Homo sapiens: one gene and its partner. The protein of the gene in region 2 interacts with the protein of the main gene of each other region in a pairwise test. Each region holds a gene or a part of one and is shown on either strand. Other genes may lie near its edges.

The links. Proteins that work in one complex are often made in the same cells at the same time.
Region 1: the proteins of CERCAM (region 2) and VGLL3 interact in binary tests that used the Homo sapiens proteins (3 or more experiments, as listed by UniProt).

What each region holds. Positions count from the first base shown.
Region 1 is NC_000003.12:86,970,650-86,974,149, forward strand, and holds part of VGLL3 (transcription cofactor vestigial-like protein 3), read right to left. Parts: intron 1-3,500. UniProt on the Homo sapiens protein: May act as a specific coactivator for the mammalian TEFs.
Region 2 is NC_000009.12:128,427,357-128,430,856, forward strand, and holds part of CERCAM (inactive glycosyltransferase 25 family member 3 isoform a precursor), read left to right. Parts: intron 1-945; coding exon 946-1,065; intron 1,066-1,400; coding exon 1,401-1,477; intron 1,478-1,573; coding exon 1,574-1,680; intron 1,681-3,500. UniProt on the Homo sapiens protein: Probable cell adhesion protein involved in leukocyte transmigration across the blood-brain barrier. Does not express any beta-galactosyltransferase activity in vitro.

The DNA.
Region 1 (3,500 bases), on a different chromosome or scaffold from region 2:
TTCTATTCTGAGGTGGCAGGGTCTCAATGGGCTTTGAAGGGTTTTAATCTAGTAAGTGACACAGTCAAATCCGTTTGTGGAAAGATCAGTGCCTCCACCTGTAGCCTGTTGCCTACAGTGTTGTATAACTAAACAAGCACTGGGCTGGGAGACCAAGGAGCCCAGCTCTGATCCTAGGTCTTACCCTATCTCATTTTATCACCCAATATGGACCCATTGATCTTTCCATGGTTTACTTTCTTTCACTAAGAAAATGAAGTATTTGAACTCATTAATTCAAATTATCTACGGCTTAATACTGCTAACAGTCTGTGAAGTGCCCTATGGATTATTTTTATTTACAGAAGAAGACATTTTCTAAAGATGTTAGTCATGTGAGTTTAAGAGAGTATTTTTATACTGAGTTCCACATAAAAGAACCTTGCTAGATCTTTCCATTGAATGAAGGGTATGAATGGAGGATATCTTAAGAAGTATTTTAAAATAAGAATATTCAAAACTCTGACATTATCTATGTTCTCTCTATAAATATCAGGCCATAGTTTTCTTGCCTCAGGGAAAGCTTAAAAAACTTCAGTCAACCACCACATATATCATTTGGTTAACATAATTCGGCATTACTGTGGTGTGTGAACATTTCCTCTCCCCTAAAGGCTGTGGCAGCAGCACTGCAAGCTCTTCTATTCTCTCCCCTTCAGCTGGGCACCAGAGCTATGATCATGACCATTCATCCCATTCATCCTGTGGTCACACAGCTATTCACAGTCAATTCCCTCTCTCACAACATCTCCATCGATCTCAAAACACTTGGGGAAATCTAGGAAATGGTGTTCTTCAAAAGGCAAAGAATGGAACTGCACACTTTAAGTCTTCAAACAACCTCAGGAAACTTTTAATTGAATGACTTTGTTAAAATCACAATCTATCCAAAAATACCACCTATAATCAGCCTTACTGACATTGAGGTAACTATGTTTTCTTGAATTAACAATCGTCTCTTTGCAACATATGAAAAATACTATTAATGACAAGAAGGAAAGTCGTGTAAGTTGTAAGAAGAAAATTCAATTTGCCTTAGGTGATGGTCATTTGTAAAATATTTCTGTCATACCCACAATGAAAGCCATCAATGTTTAAAGCTTAAAACCCATACAGAGAGTTTAGAGAGGCTCCTTATTCTACATAGTTCATCCTTGCTACCACACATCTGCCACTTTGCTCTCACAACTCCCATCTTTGGGACCAAAGCCTTCATTCTGCTCCTAACTTCCATCTCCCGAGGGGCTAGAATCCTATTATGAAAACCGTTGAGCCCCAACCACAAGTACGTGCCAGAGATATAGAATTCCCCTTATTAAAATCCACCATTAAGATGTCAAAAGTACGGAGAGTATATACCATTTCTCTGTATGCTTTTAGTCTCATTTATATGTACATGGAGCCAATCTTATTTTATAGATGCTTATGCAGTTTGAATATGCATGCGCAAATGGGAATAATGAATCAATTATTTATCAAAAATATTATTGGTCTATTTATGAAGTACTGTACCATGATTAGTGAAGACATTATTACTGAAAGTAGAAATCTATTTTTGAAAATGCACTCCATAAAGATTGAACAAAGTTTTAAAATGCTCCAGGGAAAAATAAAATTAAAAGGAACTTAATATTTTCCCAGTCAATATGTCTCTTGAGATGAATATAAAGTTTGCAAAGATCTATGCAGCCCTTTAAAAAAAACCTGTTACATTTACAATTGAAACAATATTGAGTTGAAAATATGTTTATGAAGAAGTTTATACTTCAAAATCACTATTCGGTGTCTTGCTTGTTTAAGAAAAAAAAGTCTTGATGCAAAGGAAGAGATGATATGCTTTGTTTCATGCCTGAGAACCAGTGTGCTTATTTCATATGTATGTAAATTTTTTTCATTACATGATTCTTTGCTTATGAGTACTTAATCACAGCCACATTTGTTGGATGAAGAAGACATATGAAAAACTGCATGGGCTATTTCTATGCAATATTACATTTCAGGTGAGTGAAGAAAATACAATACTTTATGCTATTAACACTATATGGTGAGTTTGGATTCAATATTACCTGGTATACAGGTGATGTTAACCAATATTTGGATGATGTTGACACTGACAGTCTAACACATACAAAATGCCCAACTGTAATTTTGGTTCAATTTTCATTTGGGGTTAAAAATATTACTCACACATACATACACACGAGTTTATTTCTAGACAAAAAAGAAAATGATAATATTGATACATTGTCTAATAAAATCCACTAAAAGCAAACCCAGTAATCTCACTATCTGATTTAGACTGCAACATGGTATACCAGGTATTTCTTTCAATTTCACAATAGTGGGATACTTTTTACACTGATTGTAAATGTCTCTTAAAAAAAACACACACACACACACATTACCTCCAAAAAAATTTTTTAAAATCTCCGAGTAAAAAATTTAAGAAAGATAAGATTCAAAATTTAAAGAATGATACAGCTTATTAATTTTGAAAATAACAAAAACTAAATTAAAAGGAAAATGGGACAATGAAGTGTTATAGAAACTCTAAGTCATCTTAAAAATTTCCAGAAAACACATTAGAATCAATATTGATTAAAATATGATTATTAAATGCTAAAAGGTAACATTTTTACATTTTTTATTAATATCAGTTAAAAAACAAAATTCTACTCAATTCTTAAGCTAAAGTGTTCTTGCTGTAATTTCATTGCCATTCTCTTGTTGTTCTTCCCATAAAAATAAATGGCTGGGTCAGAAGTGAAATGACATGTGTTCCAGTGTTTTCTGTCATTCAGTAATTATGCATTACCATTATGTCCAAAGATTGCCTTCTAGTTACTTTCTTCTAGAGTTGCTCAAAATGGGCCTTGTGACTCTACAATGAGAGTTTCAAGGGATGATGTCAGAGGCCGATACTCCTTGGAGGCAGCAGGGTGAGATTAGTCACGCCTCACTTTTTTCCCCATGTCTTGGTCCTATGGACATTCTGTTCATTTCCAGTATCAGCCAGCTCATCAGACAGGCCCTCCTTTTCCTTTCTCCATTTGACTATTTAGGTTTCGTATTTATTTTGAGAGCTTTTTCCCATGAGAATGAATTGCCCAAGCAGACCCTATGTACATCAATGAGCCAACAGATGATTTTCTTTGCAACTGCAATATCAGTAAGATTAGCATTCTGTATGGTTTTAAGTCAGTGATTTACTCTGCTATGGCTTGACATAGCTCCTGCCCTTTTCTACAGATACACACAGACTCATTTCTGTAAAGATCAGTGCATAGGCATATTTGAAACCAATGTTTAGCGCTGTGCTAAATTAATCATATAGATTATTTTTAAAATCTTTATAATAACTCTAGGAGAAGGGTATCAAGAAACATATATTTGTATGGAGATAAGGGACCAATCATATTCATTAGGTTTGTTATTTTTTTTTTTTTTTAGATAGAGTCTCA
Region 2 (3,500 bases):
CCTGCCTGGGCTTCCCAAAGTGCTGGGATTACAGGCGTGAGCTACTGTGCCCCGCCTAGGTTAGCTTTTTAATTGGCACTGTGTGCCTGCCCCTGAGGATAATTATAATAAAGGTAACAAATATTGGCCGGGTGCAGTGGCTCACGCCTGTAATCCCAGCACTTTGGATGGCCTAGGGTGGGTGGATCACTTCAGGCCAGGAGTTCGAGACCATCCTGGCCAACATGGCGAAACTCCGTCTCTACTAAAAATACAAAAATTAGCTGGATGTGGTGGTGCACACCTGTATTCCCAGCTACTCAGGAGGCTGAGGCAGGAGAATTGCTCAAACCTGGGAGACAGAGGTTGTAATGAGCCAAGATCGCACCATTGCACTCCAGCCTCGGTGACAGAGCAGGACTCCATCTCAAAAAAAAAAAAAAGGTAACAAATATTGAAGCCGGGGGAAGGCCACTCTGGCTGCCAGGTGAAAGACATCGTGGAGAGGAGCCCCAGAGGGTGTGAGGTGAAGTGGAGGGGTGTGGGGAAAAGGCGATGGCCCTTGGATCCAGGTGGGGTGGTGGGGATCAGGAGAGGTGGGGGGATTTAGGAGACAGAGCAGTGGGGCTCACTGGCACCCTGTGGCTGTGATGGGTAGGAGTTTGTCTGCTCCTGCCTCACCTTGATGCCCTGAGGGCAGGGACTCAGTCTTGCTCACTGCCGTAACCCTGGCTCCCAGCGGGTGCCCTGGACAGGTATATTGAATGAATGAACCATTTCAGTAGAAAGACCCCTTAGATATTGTGTGAGCCAAGCCCTTTCTCCCTCTGGTCCCACAGGTGGGGAAACTGAGTCCCAGAGAAGACTGACATGTTGGGTCACTGGCAGTGCTGGGCCTAGGACCTTTCAGCTGGGTTCTGAGAGCCCCACCCTCCACTGCAGCTCTCACTCAGCCTGTCTCTGCAGGGGTCTCCGTCCACGTGTGCAATGAGCACCGTTATGGGTACATGAATGTGCCGGTGAAATCCCACCAGGGGCTGGAAGACGAGAGGGTCAACTTCATCCACCTGATCTTAGAAGCACTAGGTGAGGGCTGGGGAACTGTTCCACCCACCTGCTGCCGGGGCTCCCTGCCTCCCCACGGTGCCCCTTTCCCTAGGCCCTGGACGGAGCGGGCATTGGCCTTGGGGTTCCAGCTTTGTCCCTAACTCGTTCCATGACTCTGAGAAAGTCCCTTTCCCTGTTGGGCCTTAGTCTAGCATCCCTACAATGGGGGCAGGTGGATCCTGTGATCTCTGAGGTCCCGTCCTGTGGGGTGTTCTGCCAAAGGGGGCAGGAATGAGGCTGGGGGCTAGGACTTCAGGGTGACTGCTAACAGGAGTCAGTAGGGACTCGTGCTTGGGGTGTGCTTCCCTTTGCAGTGGACGGCCCCCGCATGCAGGCCTCAGCTCATGTGACTCGGCCCTCTAAGAGGCCCAGCAAGATAGGGTTTGACGAGGTAAGTCCCCCAGCCTGTGGGCTCGCTGTTAGGAGGTGGATGGGCCCTCCTCTTCCGCTCCCTTGCACTTACCGCCCACCCCCCTGCCTCCTCCAGGTCTTTGTCATCAGCCTGGCTCGCAGGCCTGACCGTCGGGAACGCATGCTCGCCTCGCTCTGGGAGATGGAGATCTCTGGGAGGGTGGTGGACGCTGTGGATGGCTGGTGAGCCTGCCTGGTGGGGGGGGCCCTGTGCGCTTGGGGAAGCAGTGTGGTCCATCTCCTAGCCCGCTAGGACTGGGAAAAGCAGACAGGTTGAATGAGTTTCCTGTCCCATGTAGTATCCAAATAGGGTCTGAGTAATATCCTCTCAGGGAGTTCCGGAGCAGACACACGTGGGAGAAGATGCCCTCCTGCTGCTCACCAGAGGAGGAGAGCACAGTGGCTGAGGCTCCAGGGCCTGGGTTCCAGCTCTACCAGTTACTGAATGTGTGACCTCCAGCCAGCTACCCCCATCTCTCAGCCCGTTTGTATAAACAGCAGATAACTGTGCCCTTCTCTTAGGGTTTTGTGAGTTTAGTGAAGTTAGCCAGGGCCGGGCACATAGTTTCCAAAGGCTTAGGTGTCTCCCTTATTATTACTCTCCATCCTGGACTTGAGCTACTGATGCGTGGGGATTAGGAAAGGCCAGCCATGTTCCCCCGAGGAACCCAGAGGCTAGGCTTCTCCAGCCACCAGGGGTCCTATGGCCCCATATGTCGGCTGCCATTTGCTTCAAGTACTCAGCTCTTTTTATTTTTTTTTTAGAGACAGCGTCTCCGTCTGTTGCCCTCCGTCTGTTGCCCAGGCTGGAGTGCGGTGCCACAAACATGGCTCACTGCTGCCTTAAACTCCTGGGCTCAAGTAATCCTCCCACCTCAGCCTTCTGAGTAACTGGGACTATAGGTGTGCACTATCACATCCAGCTAATTAAAAAGAATTTTTTTTTTTTTTTGAGGCAGAGTCTCGCTCTGTCGCCCAGGCCTGGAGTGCAGTGGCGCAATCTTGGCTCACTGCAACATCCGCCTCCCAGGTTTTAAGTGATTCTCCTCCCTCACCTCCCAAGTAGCTGTGATTACAGGCTTGCATCACCACACCCGGATTAAAAAAAATGTTTTGTTTTGTTTTTTTTTCATAGAGATAGGGTCTCACTCTGTTGCCTAGGCTGGTCTTGAACTCCTGGCCTCAAGTGACCGTCCTGCCTCAGCCTCCTGAATAACGGACTACAGGCATGCACCACCATGTCCACCTAATGAAAAAAAATTTTTGACTGGGCACGGTGGCTCATGCCTGTAATCCCAGCACTCTGGGAGGTTATGGATGGATCACCTGAGGTCAGGAGTTCGAGACCAGCCTGGCCAACCAACATGGTGAAACCCCCTCTCTACTAAAAGTACAAAAATTAGCCAGGTGTGGTAGTGGGTGCCTGTAATCTCAGCTACTTGGGAGGCTGAGTCAGGAGAACTGCTGGAACCCAGGAGGCAGAGGTTGCAGTGAGCCGAGATTGTGCCATTGCACTCCAGCCTGGGCCGACAACAGTGAGACTCTGTCTCAAAAAAAATTTTTTTTTTGAGAGATGGGGTTTTTCTCTGTTGCCAAGGCTGGTCTTGAACTCCTGGCCTCAAGCAATCCTCCCACCTTGGCCTCCCAAAGCACTGGGATTACAGGTGTGAGACACCACATCCCCCGAGGTCTCTTGACCATAGGCTATCCATCCTTTGCTTGGGCCTCTGCCCAAGAAGTATCTATCATGTTCCCACATTCTTCCTAGAGTGCCTCCCCCTCAGGCAGCCCCCTACCATCCCACCCTTTCCTCAAGGGTCACCCCTGTCTTATCATATTAGGACATGTCCTAATAGTTATCCTCTCAGAACTCCCGAGGTGGCTGGGCGTGGTGGCTCATGCCTGTAATCCCAGCACTTTGGGAGGCTGAGGTGGGTGGATCACCTGAGGTCAGGAGTTCGAGACCAGCCTGGCCAACATGGTGAAACCCCATCTCTACTAAA